Linked DNA regions of Homo sapiens: region 2 is linked to region 1. A link means that fine-mapping ties the variant in region 1 to the expression of a gene that starts in the linked region. Tissue or cell type: whole blood. Region 1 holds a variant in brackets; the other region holds the start of a gene. All regions are shown on one strand. Distances are between the middles of the regions.

What was found. PIP is the estimated chance that this variant, and not a neighbour inherited with it, causes the effect.
Region 2: DDX1 starts here. The variant in region 1 is fine-mapped to the expression of DDX1 in whole blood (TOPMed, PIP above 0.99). The same link has a PIP of 0.9 or more in aorta, blood mononuclear cells, lung and monocytes.

The regions. Positions count from the first base shown.
Region 1 is chr2:15,621,355-15,629,354 of GRCh38, reverse strand. It overlaps DDX1 (DEAD-box helicase 1), which reads right to left. Exons shown (of 26, transcript NM_004939.3): 19 at 5,773-5,919; 20 at 2,210-2,301; 21 at 838-910; 22 at 645-717; 23 at 516-558. Among named protein-coding and RNA genes, the nearest start is that of DDX1, 33 kb to the right of the region's middle. The variant C/T (reference allele first, on the strand shown) is at 4,785.
Region 2 is chr2:15,587,606-15,595,782 of GRCh38, reverse strand. DDX1 (DEAD-box helicase 1) reads right to left here and starts at 3,915. Exons shown (of 26, transcript NM_004939.3): 1 at 3,834-3,915; 2 at 587-638; 3 at 230-293. The coding sequence starts at 3,849. It overlaps LOC124905975 (a long non-coding RNA gene), which reads left to right and starts at 4,014. Exons shown (of 2, transcript XR_007086224.1): 1 at 4,014-4,323; 2 at 4,451-7,514. RefSeq lists an enhancer at 3,817-3,876.

The DNA of each region.
Region 1 (8,000 bases):
CTCAGATAAAAGTAGGATGAAAAAGTAAATATTGAAGCATACTATGTCAATATTAACATAAAAAAGTTCAAAAGAAAAATAAGTTCAAATCTTTTGTATAAGAGAATAATAAAGCAAATAATGCAAAATGTACAACTACTGAATTTGGCAATGAGTATATGGGAGCTCTTTATGAATACAACTTTTCTATAAATTTGTAATTATATCAAAATAAATCTCCCCTCACCATGAAAGGTCTTCCATGGCACCATGCCAGAAAATGTTTAAATATTTTTTGGTGGAAATGAGTACAATAAAGCTAGTTGGAAAAATTATATTTTGCATTTTTCCTTTCTAAATTTCACCCTATTATTTGTCCATTCAATGAATATAGGAAAAAAGATGACATTAAAAAGTTCATTTGTATTCCATACGCAGCTGAATTAAATTTAAATGGGAAAATCAAACTGCTTTTATTTCCAACATCTAAAATCACAACACACACAATGAATATAATAGAGCCCTACAAAGATTACCTTTTCTTTTTCTGTTGCCACCAGGGAAATTGCCAGACCCATCCTGAAAGATGGTTAAAAGCCTTCTATTAGACTTTATTCCTAAAGCATACAAGCTTAAAAATGGGGGAAAAAAAATTGCAGAAGTACCTTTCAGCTCTTCCTACTCTGCCAATTCGATGTACGTAGTTTTGCTTTTCATCGGGCAGAGTGACATTTATAACTATAAATAAAAACCATTATTAACAATTGCCAGTAGTTTCTAAATTTTTCAAACATATTAGAAGGCTTTACTTTAGATTCCGTAACAATCACACTACAGGCATAAAAAGTTGCTTTTTACCATAAGGAACACCGTGGATATCAATTCCTCTAGCAGCTACATCTGTGCAAATCAAGAATCTTACATCTCCTTTCTAAAGAGAACAGTGAAGAGAGAAAGGAGTTTGTTAGCACATATACTAAACAATAAAAACAAATGCTATCCTTCCACTAAATGAGACCTCTAAAAACTCAAGTGTTACTATCAGATTAGAGGTCGACATACTCCTAATTTACTGGACCAAGTCTTGAAGTTTTATGTCATGATCTGCTGAAACATGACATTTAAGGTGATTAAATCAGAGATTGGGTTCATTTTTGCTTTTCTTTTTCTACTCAAAGATATTAAACTATTGCTAAAACTTGGCTTAATCTTTATAAATATCTTTAGAAATTGAAGAGAAAGACAAAACAGAATACAATGTACAGACATAAGCATTATCTTTACTCTTAAATTCAAATAAACTCAGAATACTAGATATTTTACCTGGAGGCTACATTTTTTGTAACAGACAAAATTCTCAAGGGGAGGAAAATGAGGGTAGGCCCCTGGTGCTCACCAAGAAATACAAATTAGCCTTTCAATGTCATTTGTGCCTCAAGGCACAGCAAAATTAGAGATCTGGGGGAGGGAAGAAGGGTATACTGACTTATGGTCCAGAAAAATGCCTACGGTTGAGAAGGGTAGCACACATTCAAACGAGGCCATGCGATGTGTTTTCACATCTGCATCAATTATGCCCAGCATGGAAACGTAAGCCAAAGTTCTTCAACCCAATACTTCCCATCTTTTTTCTTAGAAAATGATACTTATGCTATACACTGGGGCCTATTAAATTAATGAGACTGCTTGCAGGTAGACAGGTTACCGATCTTTAGTTCTAAATGGCTCAAGCCATTTACTTACCCACCCACTTACACCAAGAGCTATATGACCCGTTCATGTGCTGCAAGCATATAACTGGAAAGGTCTGCCCCAAACAGTATCAAAATACCTTTAATTCTACATAGCCATATTCTGATACCTGTCTTAATTAATCTACAAATTAAGTTCCTTATGGCTATTGCTGGAGACTGTTTTTAAGGCACATAGACATGGCTTAACTATCCAATGATACTTCTCCTAAAAATATCTACCTGAAATAATTTAACTAAAATTTCTGAAATTGAAAATTCCTGTTATAGTAGTGTTATGCTGATAGAGAATGTATAATTTACCATTTGAGTGTCAACAATGACTAATTCCTGTCATGATGATGACACATTAGTTAGGGTAGAAACATTTTGAAATTTCTAGGACAATAATTGCTTTAATAATATTAATTAAAACTGCTTAAAACTAGATATAATGCCCCTCTTAAGTATTAAGGAAACAATCAACTATGTATCAGTACCTTAAATCTTTCCAAGTTTTGCTTTCTCTCATGAGGCTTTCTGTCACCATGAAGACAAACACATGAGAACTGGTGTCCTTTTTTATCAGGTCCTAGTGAAAAGCACATTAAGCATTTAACCTTGGAAAATCTTCTGCCTAAGACTATGTAAAAAAGCCAATAAAATTCAGACTACAATAGTGCCACACAATTCCATAAAAATCTATGCCCCAACTTGCTATAAACCATGGTTAACACAATTTATGTCACAAACGAAGTACCATTAAAATGAACTCTACGGAGCATTAAAGTTGTCCTGCTTTTAAGGGCATTTTAAGTCACCCTTCCCAATCTGTAGGAGGAGTGGATCAAGCAGTGTACCAACTAAAATGCCTATGTGTACACCAGGAACCTCACTATCCTCCATAAAGCTAAGACTCAAAAAGTAGGCAAAAGAGATCATTCTTGGAGGAACCAAAATTAAGCATCATCAAGTTAATGTGCTTCCTAAAAGGCCATGCCCATAAGCCTGCTCTCTTCTCAAGGTATTTTAAGCAACATAGTTATCTAGTTTCATGGCCACAGAAGATTCAAAGCAGCAAACTGTAAAGATGGAGAGGTGTTATTTTAGAGGCAAGTGCAGTGGTAGCCAACCCCCCAAAAGAAAACTCTTCAAGTAGACACAGTAACAAAAAGAGTAACCACTGGGATGTAACAAAATAACAATTATGGCACTTAACTATTCTCCAAGGTAAATTAAGTTCAGTAAGTATACTTGAAAATTCAAGGAAACAATACATTTTGACAGATATCTATTCAAAATGAATAACACAAAAATTAATTATGCAGAGGTGAAATAACAGCTAACCAGAACTTCTAGAGGTATACAGCTGAGATTTTATTGCATCCTGCATTCAAGTGGTTTAGGGAAGTATCAAATACACACTATAACTCTCTGGTTAGGGTATGTGTGGAGGGGAGAGGGATCCTTTGATCCCTTCTTTTAAACCCCTGTAATCTGGTATATATTGTGTTTGAGTGTTAGTAATGGTGTAATAAACTTGTTTTCTAGGCAGAAGTAACATCTACATCCAGAATATTTAGGGAAGGAGCATCAAAGTAACTAAAGGGATATTACTACTTAATCAACAGTACTCCTTACTACATAATCAACTCCTCCATTCAAAACATAGACAGGAAGAAAATTAAGTACTACAAAACAGTCACTATAACAACCAAGCAAGTCTGTTTGCCAGGACTTGAAAAAAAAAATGTGTTACTTAAGCACTCACTGTAATGAACAGTGTAATGTATTCTTTATATGACCATTAGTTCAAATATTCTATATCCTTCTTGAGTTTTCTATTTCCTTGACGTACATCAGTTATAACAAAATGTGTTAGTCTTTCCTCAGTACAATAATGGGATTTGTATGTTACCTTCTATATCTGCCAATTTTTACTTTTTATATTTTTCCAATATTTATATTTTCAAACACGTAGCAACACTGAAATAATTTTAAGGATGAACAGTTGTATATCCACCACCTAGATTCAACAATTAACATTTTATTATACTTGCTTTAACCACATATCTACCTATACCTGTATCCATCCATCAACTCATCTTCATATTTTTGTACATTTCAATGTAAATTGCAGACATCAGTACAGAGTTCGGCATGCATATAATTAACTAGAATTCAATATTTGTTTAGTTTTTTCTTTTGAGGTAAAAGTTGTATTCAAGAAATCTACAAATCTTAAGTAGATTTGCTGAGAAAGTCCCATTAGGATACAGAACATCATTATCACACCAAAAAATACCCTCATATCCTTTCCCAGCCTATCCCTACTGCCACCCTTGTGGGGACTACTACTGTTCTGACATTTTTTCCATCACAGATTAGTTCTGACTTTTTAAAAATGTCATATAAATAGATTGATACAGTGTATATTCTTGAGTAAGAATTCTTTCATTTGGCATAAGGTTTCTGAGATTCATCCATCATTGCTGTGTTTACTCAGCAAGGAAAAGTCTGTTCCTTTTCACTGCTGAGTAGTATTCCACTGTATTTCACACTTTATTTATCCATTCTCCTACTGATGGACACTTAGTGTGTTTTCAGTTTTAGAATATTATAAATAAAGCTGCTATGGCCATTCTAGCATCTTTTTGTCAATATGTGTTTTCATTTATCCTGGGTAAACATCTAGCAGTTTAATTGCTAGGCCATAAGACAGCATTTTTAGCTTTATAAAAGACTGCAAGACCCTTTGCTAAAGTGCTCATACCATTTTATATTCTCACCAACAATCTATTCTCAACAACTGTATGCAGTTGCTCCACAGCCAAAATTCGGTGTTGTATTTTTAGTTTAGCATGTACAACGGTATTATACTGTCATTTTATTTTGCATTTCCATAACAACTGATTGAGAATTTTTCCATGTTGGTTTATGATATAATTTGGCTGGGTCTCCATCCAAATCTCATCTTGAATTGTAGTTCCCATAATCCCCACATGTGGGAGGGACCTGGTAGGAGATAATAGAATCATGTGGGTGGTTATCCTCATGCTGTTCTCGTGATAGTGA[C/T]GGAGTCCTCATGAGATCTGATGGTTTTATAAGGGGCTTTTCCTACTTTGCTTGGCACTTCTCCTTCCTGCTGCCATGTAAAGAAGGACGTGTTTGCTTCCCCAGCTCTGAAGAACTGTGAGTCAATTAAACCTCTTTCCTTTATAAATTACCCAGCCTCAGGCAGTTCTTCATAGCAGCATAAGAACAGACTAATACAGTTTACATTCTCGAAGTTATAAGAAGCATAAAATCTGAACCCTTATACTTCCATTGTAGCTTGGATATTTTATTACATAGTGACTCTTTATTTCTAGTAATATTTGTCTTAAAGTCTACTGCAACTCTTATTAATATAGCTAGACTGGCTTTCTTTTGGTTAATATTTTAGCTGACACATGCATAATATTTTTTCATTCCTTTTCCATCTTTCTATGTCCTCAGATTTTGGGTATGCTCCATGTAAACAGCGTATTGCTAGATTTCATCCAGTCCAACAATCCATGCTTTATAACAGAAGACCGTGTCCACTGATACTTACAGTGTTTACTCATACATTCAGATTTTTCCAACATTGATCTTATTCTATAATTTCTAACCATAATTTTTCTCATTTTATTCCCCTTCCTTTCTTGCTCTTGTTTAGGTTTTTTTTCCTCATTCCCCTTTCCCCATCTACTGGTTTAAAAGACATACATTCTATTATTTCAGTGATCATATTTTAAATTTTAAGACTAATAAATTACTTTATCCTTCTTCCATATAATATAAAACTCTTAGGATGCTGTGATTCAAGTTTACTGTAATGAAAATGTACCTACGTGGAAAATTCTCTCTTGTTTTTCCTAGGGCTTATCATATGGAAAAGTACTGAATAAGCATAGATACTTAAAATATGCCATCAACTGCTTTAAATTCTGTGCATGTGTTCTAGATTGCATCAACATGAGATTAATAATCTATTACAAGAGGATATAAACACAATTTATTTCAAGTGAGAAAAAATTACCTCCTCCTTGTTGTATAAAGTACTGCTCCAAGTTATCACAGTCAATTTTGGTTCTACAGAAGATAATTGCTTGATCCATCTTATGTTCCTTGATTGCCCGGACAGCATACTCCCCTTTCAGGATTTTAATAGCTTCAGACCACATCTCTTGAATATCATAACAACAACAAAAACCAACAGAATTTCAATCTGAACTTGTCATGAATACACATAATTATAGTCACAGACTGACTGCTTAATTTTCCTAAAAAAGAATACTTGTTTTAATAAAAGTATTATATATAGATAAGGACAAGAAGTAAAGATAGAGTAAAACAGTGAGTTAAACCATTCATTCATTTATTTTTGTTTCTGTTAATATTTTTTATGCTACTTTATGGGGTATATAAACACCCATAACCGTACCCCTTATGAGGGAACACACACATACACACGTACAAATTAACAGAAATACATACAGCAAAACTGTTATCTCTCATGAAGAACAAATCATATTCTGCCTTGCATGAACTTCCCTAAATGCTCAATAAATGCTTTATACAATTATTTTAACTCCTTTTAAAAATAATTAATGTACTTTCTAAATCAATCTAAATACCAGAAAGTTCATACTTCACTCTACGCAGTAAAAACCTTAACACAAAACTCTAGTAATTTTTTAGTCACCATCCTCCAACTCTCTATTTTTCAGTGTGAAGCTGTGCTATAATTGTTATTCCTCAACCACTGAATGTAAGACTTTAATTCTGTGACCCAACATATTTCTAAGGTCTCTCTGATCATCTCTAATTGTTAGTCTAAACTAAGCAAAACTTATGCAAGAAAAATATAAGAAGCAATAAAAACTGGAATTTTATAAAATGCATTTGGGATGACAGATTTTCAAACAGTGTCTCTGCTCTTCTCCAACAATAAGGATAACTAAGTATGTGTCTTGTTAATTTAGACCTACATATAAAACTGAGTTCAAATCTTTAATCAAGATTTCAGATAATTCACCATTTTGATATAGTTGAAATTCAACCATGAAGCAAGCAGAGTCCGACCCTCACCAATGAATGATCCACCTGAAACATCTCATGTCAGACATGCAGCCTAATGGGTTTAAGATCCATTCTTCTAGGTTTTCTAAGCACCAACCTTGTATCATGATGTACCTTCCTATATTTTCAAAACACTATTTAACCTGAAACAAAGAGTCTCAGCTCTGCAAAGAAGAATCTTCATTGAGGCGGAATTTAATGTTAGGCTTTTTAAAAATTGATAAATATTTAATGATACAGATTTTCAGTTTAAGAAGATGAAAAAGTTCTGGAGATGGACAGTGGTGATGATTGTACAACAATATGAATGTACTTAATGCCAATGAACTGTACACTAATAGTTAAAATGCTAAGTTTTATGTTATGTATATTCTACCACACACAAAAAAGTCAACAACTATTTCAAAACAATTTCAGTATCTTTTGCAAAGCTATAGCTAAAGAAAGTTTTCTTTCTTATGCAATATTCCTGATATGAGAAACTTACATGATATTTCTTATGGAATTCAGGGTCAATATAAAATAATCTCTCTAGAAAAATTCGCTGTTTTCCTATGATGAGAATTAGATAATCAAAAATATTTGTGGCTGGGTGCAGTGGCTCACGCCTATAATCCCAGCACTTTGTGAAGCCAAGGCGGGTGGATCATTTGAGGTCAGGAGTTCAAGACCAGCCTGGCCCACATGGTGAAACCTCATCTCTACTGAAAACACAAAAATTAGCCAGGTGGTAGTGGCACGTGCCTGTAATCCCAGCTACCCGGGAGGCTGAGGCAGGAGAACTGCTTGAGCCTGGGAGGCAGAGGTTGTGGTGAGCCAAAATCGCACCAGTGCACTCTAGTCTGGGTGACAGAGTGAGACCGTGTCTCAAAAAAACAAAAAAAAAAAAAGTGATTTAGATGCCAGGAGACTAACATCTAAATTCAATGATTAAGGCCAGGCATGGTGGCTCATGCCTGTAATCCCAGAACTTTGGGAGGTCGAGGTGGGAGGATCACCTGAGGTCAGGAGTTTAAGACCAGCCTGGCCAACATGGTGAAACCCCATCTCTACTAAAAATATAAAAAAATTAGCCAGGCATGGTGGCGGGCGATCCCAGCTACTTGGGAGGCTGAGGCAAGAAGAGAACTGCTTGAACCCGGGTGGCCGAGGTTGCCTTGAGCTGAGACTGTGCCATTGCACTCC
Region 2 (8,177 bases), 34 kb after region 1:
GCCACATTCTCTCTGATACGAGATTCATTCTTATACATGTCTTATTGCCCTAGTGGGTTTAAGCTTCTCAGGAGTAAATACTTACCTGTTTGAAGCTTTTACCTAATAGTCTGAATACAGTATATGTATCATAAATGTTTGTGAATAAAGGTAAAGTAGCATTTGTAAGCCTATGCAATTCTTAGAGTGTGTCCCCAGCTACCAATCACCTCACCAAATTTAAACTTACCATAAGTACATCACCTCCTCCTAAGATCAATGGGATAGATTCAGCCTGGATATCAGTTGGGAGGCTAAAAGAATCATATTTGAAGAATTTTAGTTACTGGGGAAAAAAATCGCCTAAGCAAATTAAGTCACGTTAATTTGCCTAAAAGAAAATTTTACGTGGTAAATACGATCCATCTTATTCCACTAGAAATATGTCAAGGTTAAAAAAAGGAAACTTTCCATAATTTAGAAAATCACAAAAAAAACCTGATTTTCACTTACCCAACTAGACACAAAAATATTTGATAAAATCACTAACAACTGTTTAAATTATAAAACATCCTCTCCCAGGTACATTTAGGCTTTATGTACTTACAGCCAATCCATCTCTTCCACAGCTTGTGCAATCTCAGGCATTACACCCATCTCTGAAAGTAAAAATTAATTTTAAAAACCACATAAACTGAAATGATAAATTGCATTGCTCTCAAAATTACTATTCATAAAACAGGGTAAAGATTTTGAAGGATAGCTCAGTTACATCAAATCTACTGAGCGTGGCACTGTTGAAAGAGCACAAGTTCTGGAGAAAGACCTGAGTTCAAATCTAAGTTCTCACTTATTAGCAAGTGACCTTAGGCAAAGCTATAAATCTGTTTTCTCCACACAAAATGGGGCTGATATTGCCTACCTTGCAGGGCTATATGAAGACCAGAGATAATCATGTAATGCAACTGGAGCATGGTTGTCACCTAATAAACTGTAGCCACTACAGTGCCTGTTTACCTCTCATGACTCGTGAAAAGTCTGCCAAGAATAGACAGGGTTGTTGCATTTAGAGACAATGTGGCAGTTATGTGCCTTGGCTATTCTAGGACCATGTGAATACCCTCAGCAATTGGAAAAAAATGAATAGACAAGTGGCGAGCACCCACATTTATTGGCAGCCATAATCAAAATTCTGAATAACTGAAGAGGGAGGGGTCAGTGGTGAAAACGTGGGCACCTGGAAATGTCAGCTGAAGAACTGCTGAGTTCTTAACTGTATACATATCTCAATAATTCTACTTCAAGGCCCATCCTAAATGAATAGAGATGAGTTGCTCCTAACCGGGTTTTGTCATTTTATCATTTCTCATATGAACTGTAGAGGGTAATTATATATGGAGTAGTTAGTTGGATTACTTAAACTTTCCTTCCAAAAGACAAGTGATTTTTATTTTAAGTCTGTATTTATAAAATATAGCTTTATCATAAAAATATATATTCCTATAAAAAAAAGAACAAGAATCAAACATTCCCAAGCCCCAGAAATAACCAATTCTGAAATTCTGTATTTCTTGCCATTGTGAAAAGGCATAAAGCAAACATACAAACTGAAAATATTCTTCATAAAATTATGTAGCTTTTTCTTTGCATCAGATGAGAAGGATCATCATTTTCAAAGAAGGCTCTCCTAACTCTTTTTCTTTTTTTTCTTTTCTTTTGTTTTTTTTTGAGACAGTCTCACTCTGTCACCCAGGCTGGAGTGTAGGGGCATGATCTCCACTCACTGCAAACTCCGTCTCCCAGATTCAAGCAATTCTCCTGCCTCAGCCTCCCGAGGAGCTGGGGCTACAGGCGCATGCCACCACGCCCGCTAATTTTTTTTCATATTTTTAGTAGAGACGGGGTTTCACTGTGTTAGCCAGGATGGTCTCAATCTCCTGACCTCGTGATCTGCCCACCTTGGACTCCCAAAGTGCTGGGATTACAGGCATAAGCCACTGCACCTGGCGACTTTCCTAGCTCTTAATCTCAGGAAAAAAAAAAGCCACAGATAAACTAATGAAGATCTAAAGTTGAATATCCAGGCAGACCTTCCTAAGAATTAACCTGTATTACAGTCTATGTTCTCTCTCCTAAAATGCAAACTGCTTGAAACAAAGGAGTGGTGTGTTCTTACTGCATACGGAATACTGCAAGCTGAAGCTCTTTGCAAAATTGTTATACAAGAAACAACATATCATTTTCAGTAAATTCCAGACAATCTCTTGTACCATTCTGGTCATGTTCCCTGCAAGTTTTCTTTGAAAGCGGACCTTAAGTATAATACTTTTAACAGTTAAGGAAAAATTAGAAACATTCGTGAAATTCCAGTTTTGTCTTATTTCATATCACAGACTTTTTCCAGTCCTTTACCTCTAACATTCATGAAATTTGTGTATGACTCCCAAAGATGTGAACCTATAAAATGACTACCTAGAACTATCCTACAGACCTTGGCTCTAAAATCGTTTTAGGAGAATGTTGGGAAAAGAAAAACAGCAACAACTCTGAGCAGTTTCCAATTGAATCCTATTAGAAGATGTAACTGAAACAGTCAGAAATCTTACATGACTGTTGCACTTTGGGAAGCCGAGGTGAGCGGATCACCTGAGGTCAGGAGTTCGAGACCAGCCTGGCCAACATGGTGAAACCCCCGTCTCTACTAATAATACAAAAATGAGCAGGGCATGGTGGTAGGCGCCTGTAATCCCAGCTACTCAGGAGGCTGAGGCAGGAGAATTGCTTGAACCTGGGAGGTGGAGGCTGCAGTGAGCCAAGATCACACCATTGCACTCCAGCTGGGGCGACAGAAGGAGACTACATCCCCCCACCCCCCCATTCTCCCCCCCAAAAAAGAAAAAAAATATCTTACATGACTGGAGATATGGAATTCCTAATATTCTTACAGAAGAAAACTAAAAAATATAAAATACTACATCTGAAGTCATCTTAAAAAGTTAATAACATTAAAGGACATTAGGCCTAACGTGATACATTTATATAGCAATAAACGTTACATAAGTGCTACATAAATGTATCACGTTTAGCGCATTTAAGGCTGATTACAGCTTCCTAAAACTGGATGCCTAACAGGAGGATGATAAAGCAAGAGGCGAAAATATCAACTGTAGGGTTCGATAAGCCATATCAAATCATATTTGGAATAAAGGAGGGTAGCAGACGGCAAATAAATATGAATTTTCCAAACTTATGTTGGACTGGTGCGTACGTTAATGAAAATGCTTTCCCTTTAGCTTCAACACTGAACATTAATGTTGATATAACAACGTTTAAGAACAAATAAAGATCAGGTTTATGCCTGGGACGTTTTGGAAGGGCCTGAAAAAACTGGACAGAGGCAGGATCGTCATTTTTCCCCAATGACTCCTCCCCACGCCGTCTCGCCTCTCTGCCTGGCCAAGCCCAGATGAGCCGCGGGCAGAAAAGGGTTCCCAAAGGGTCACTGCCACGTTAAGAGGCAGGAGGCCCAGGCGTCTGGGAGCCGCCAGAGCAACGCCGCCGCCTAGATTTTGCAGCCGAAGGTGCACTGGCAGGAAAGCCAAGTGGAGACTGGTAGAAGGGAAAGGGCAGGGGGAGGGACGTTCCGGCCCGCTCCTGGGAAGAATCGTCCTCCGAACCCGAGCCGCGGCCGCCCCTGATCCCGCAACGCGGGTCCATCAGGGACTGCAGCGGACAGCGCCCTTCTGTCTCCCTGACCCCTGTCCGCTCCCGCCCCTTTAGCTCTCCGCGGGCGGCCCCAGGGCTGAGGCGTGCAACAAGCCGCCCCACCACCCCCAGAGTTTCCACAAACGCACCGGAGAAGGCCGCCATCTTCACCCCGTCCTCCGCGGCTTCGCCTGCTCGCTCCCTCCCTCCCGACTGACACGGCGTGGCAGTGGCGGCGCGCGCTTCCGGCCCCTGGTCTTCGGCGTTCGGAGTCCGGGCAGGGACTCAGCCCCGGGAGAACGGTTCCGATGGAAGGAAAGGCCCGCGCCGGCCCCGCCTTATGCGCCTGCCGCTGAGCGGACCTCTGGGACCTAGGGCTTCTGGACGCCGCCTTCGTTCTGGGCACCATGTGTTCGGAGCACACCACGCGGTATCAGGGTCACAGCTACAGAGAAGGAAGCAGATGTTTGGTGATTAGGGTCATCCAGTGGGCTCAGGCTGACACCACACCGTGCCCTCCCCACTCAGTCCCCCAGCTTTCCAAAGGTGAGCAGGGCCTTGGTGTGTGAATGACCCGGAGAGATGGACTGGATTCATTGCCCTGAGCACCAATGCCAGTGAGTGCCTGGCAGCCAGTAGGTATTTGTTACATTTTTTTTTTAAACTAAGTAATGATTTAGGTCTCCCTCCCTTCACCCATGTTTGATGTCGCTTTTATAATTTCGGGTTTGACTTCCATGCAATTTTAACTCCTTTCTCTTTGCAGAGAGATGGGGAAAGTAAATGAGGAATCCTCCCAACCAGACACTCACTCTGTCAGGAAGGTATTAGAATCTTTAGATGAGGACTCTAAAATTCGGGAAAGTTAAGTCACTTATCTAAAGACACATATCTACCGAATGGCAGCGTGGGATCTGAGCCACATCTGCGCAATGCGAGGGCGCGTGCTGTGCTATCTGTAGCCTGCCCCAGAGTGTCATGGAGAAAAGTGGAACCCTCAGGCAAGATAGAATAGGGTTGCAGCGGCCGGGCGCGGGGGCTCACGCCTGTAATCCCAGCACTTTGGGAGGCCGAGGCAGGCGGATCACGAAGTCAGGAGGTCGAGACCATCCTAGCTAACACGGTGAAACCCCTTCTCTACAAAAAATACACACACACACACACACACACACACACACAGAAGAAGCCGGGTGTGGTGGTGCATGCCTGTAGTCCCAGCTACTCGGGAGGCTGAGGCAGGAGAATCGCTTGAACCCAGGAGGCGAAGGTTGCAGTGAGCCGAGATCGCGCCACTGCACTCCAGCCTGGGTGACCGAGCGAGACTCCGTCTCAAAAAAAAAAAAAAAGAAAAAAGAATAGGGTTGCAGCTACTCCGGAGGCTGAGGCATGAGAATCACATGAACCTGGGAGGCGAAAGCTGCAGTGAGCTGAGATCGTGCCACTACACTCTAGCCTGGGCGACAGAGGGAGAGTCTGTCTCAAAAAAATAAAAAATAAAAAAGATAGAATAGGGTTAGAAGTACAGAGTTGGGAACCATATTCTGAGTTTGGATTCTAGGTCTGCCACTTGCTTGCTGTGTGACCTTGAACAAGTCATGAAGCTTCTTTGGGCTTCAGTTTACTTACCTGTGAAATAGGGATGAACAATAGTACCTTTCTCATATGATAGTTATGAGGATCAAATAAAATACATAAAGCATCTAAAATAGTGCATAGCACATGGTGACAATATAACTAGCTCTGTTATTACTATTACATGTAACAGGATTCACCTGAAGCTCCAAAGGCCCAGGACAATACACTCAGCCCTGCAGCTTTACACTTCCAGGGGGCACTATTCACATTATATTCTCTATTCTTGTTATATTTTGTCTAAATAAGACCCTGAGAGTTATGCAGTGTACCAGTTTTGAATGGATACCAAGTACCCCCACATTCCAAGGAGAGATACAAGACCCATATTATGCAGGACTTGCCAAAGGGAAATCTGAAATCTAATTTTTGTGCCTTTTGCCAATGCCCACCTTTAAAGTGTGAAAAATCGGCTGGGCATGATGGCTCATGTCTATAATCCCAACACCTTGGGAGGCTGAGGCAAGGGGATCACTTGAGCCCAGAAGTTCAAGACCAGCCTGGGCAACATAATGAGACCCCCATCTCCAAAAAAAATTAAAAAATAGTTGGGCATGGTGCACACCTGTAGTCTCAGCTACTTGGGAGGCTGAGGTGGGAGGATCTCTTGAGCCTAGGAGGTGGAGGCTGCAGTGAGCTATGATGGTGTCACTGTACTCCAGCCTGGGTGGCAGAGCAAGACCCTGTCTCAAGGAAGAGATAAAGTATGAAAAAATTAAAGATGCAAATTAAGAGAAAAGATTTCTGTGAAAAGAATGCATTTCAGGGAAATACTCTGAGAACTTTTGATCTGAGAGTTTGGGAAGCGTAAGGACTGCTCTGAGAAGCCGTCCCTAGGAGGACCTGAGGTGGCAGGGCAGAAAAAGAGACAGAGAGAAGGAGAGAGAAGCCTGCTGCAGGAGTTAACTGTGGGGGAATCGTGTGACATTTTTTCCCCAAGGGATAAATAGATCTGTGGAGAGTGGACTGGAAGTTTTCTTCAAAGGGAATGTGCCCAAGAGACTTCCCGGAGGAGCTAAATGATTCAGCACACAGACCCCCCAAAGAACGCAGTGGCATCCTTACCTTCCAAACTGGAGAAGAGATATCTCTTGTCTCATGGGAGTTGCATGTGGAGGATGCCAGCAAGGAGAATCTCCAAGATACCACAAAAAGTTCCCTCTAAGAGAAACAATCAGCCTTGAGCATGTCTAAGCCAGAAAGCACCAGAATCAGATCACCATAAACCCAGCCAGATAAAGGTGTGTACCCACCCGCCACCCCATCCCCTAGACTTTATCCTTCCCAGGAGTCAGAAACAACAGCTAATGGGAGAGGCGAGTACAGAAAAGAGACTGACCCCATCCTCCATCCCACTGCAGGCTTCTGGCGTGGAATAGGCCAAGCAGGAAGAGGAGGAAGCCATGATGTTGGTTGAAGTTGTGAATTTCAATCACGATCCTGGACATGATAGTTTACAGAAACGAGGGTATAATTAGATGAAAGTAACCAGACAACTCTTCATTGTCTCAGAGTGACCAGAAAAGCTCTGGAAGATGCCAGAGACTTCATCTAGGTCAGGGAAAGAAATAACCCATAGAGATGATTTCAAGGTAACAGATAATGTTTTCTGTTTGTGCCTTATCAAGTTCAGCTCACTTAATATACTGCTTTAATAATTATAGATATTTGTATGTATGTGTTGCAGTGCCCTCAGTAATGCAAATTGGGATATGTGAATTGGGGTATGATTGGCTCCTCTCCTTGGCAGGTAGAATAACACCAGGCAGAGAAACAGCAGCCAGGCCCTTCACCAAACCAAAAGATAGAGGATGGGTGCCTTTCAGTCTGGTATTTTGCTGGTCTAGTCTCCCCAAGAATAGGTTGATTTAATGGTTGCCTACTAACTGGGAGATTCCTAGAAACCCTGGCCTGGTCCCAGAAACCAGGACAGACACCACCAGGTGGCACCAAACTGTAGCCAAACTGAGAAGAGATTGGACTGGACCCTAAAAACTCCCAGCGTAGGCTTTTGTTCATCTGTCTCCATTTATACAAATGGACGTGCGACATTTAAGGCGGGTGATGGAAGTCTTCAACAACTGGATTGTGGTGCTGGTTGCACAGCTCTGTGAATCATTGAATTGTACATTAGTGAATTTTATGGTATTTAAATTATACCTTAATAAAGCTGTTTAAAAAATTATAATTAAAAAACACATATGGCTGAGCGTGGTGTCTCATGCCTGTAATCCCAGCACTTTGGGAGACCGAGGTGGGTGGATTACCTGAGGTCAGGAGTTCAAGACCAGCCTGGCCAACATGGTGAAACCCTGTCTCTACTAAAAATACAAAAAATTAGCCGTGCTTGGTGGCGGGCGCCTGTAATCCCAGCTACTTGGGAGGCTGAGGCAGGAGAATCACTTGAACCCAGGAGGCGGAGGTTGAAGTGAGCCGAGATCATGCCACTGCACTCCAGCCTAGGCGACAGAGCAAGACTCTGTCTCAAACACACACACACACACCCCTCAGCCTGGGCTTGCCCCCAGTATTTTTTTTTTAACCTCAGAATAACCCCACATTTTCTGTAATTGGGTAGTTTGGGCCCCACTAATCATGTGATAGGGAAGTTTTACTATGTTATCCATGGGCCCAAGATATTATGCTATGTATTTTCAAGTAAGCTATATTATAATTATATCCCACTGTAGAGCAAATGGTTTTGCAACTACTAAGGCAGACCTGAAAAAAAATGCCTTCAGGTATCTGGGAAAGTGTAGAGAGGATGGGTCCTGGGAAGGCCTCTGTAGATGGACCACCCAAAAGCCATACACAGTTCCTAGGTTAGCTCATTTGTGCTGCTATAGCAAAATACCTGAGAA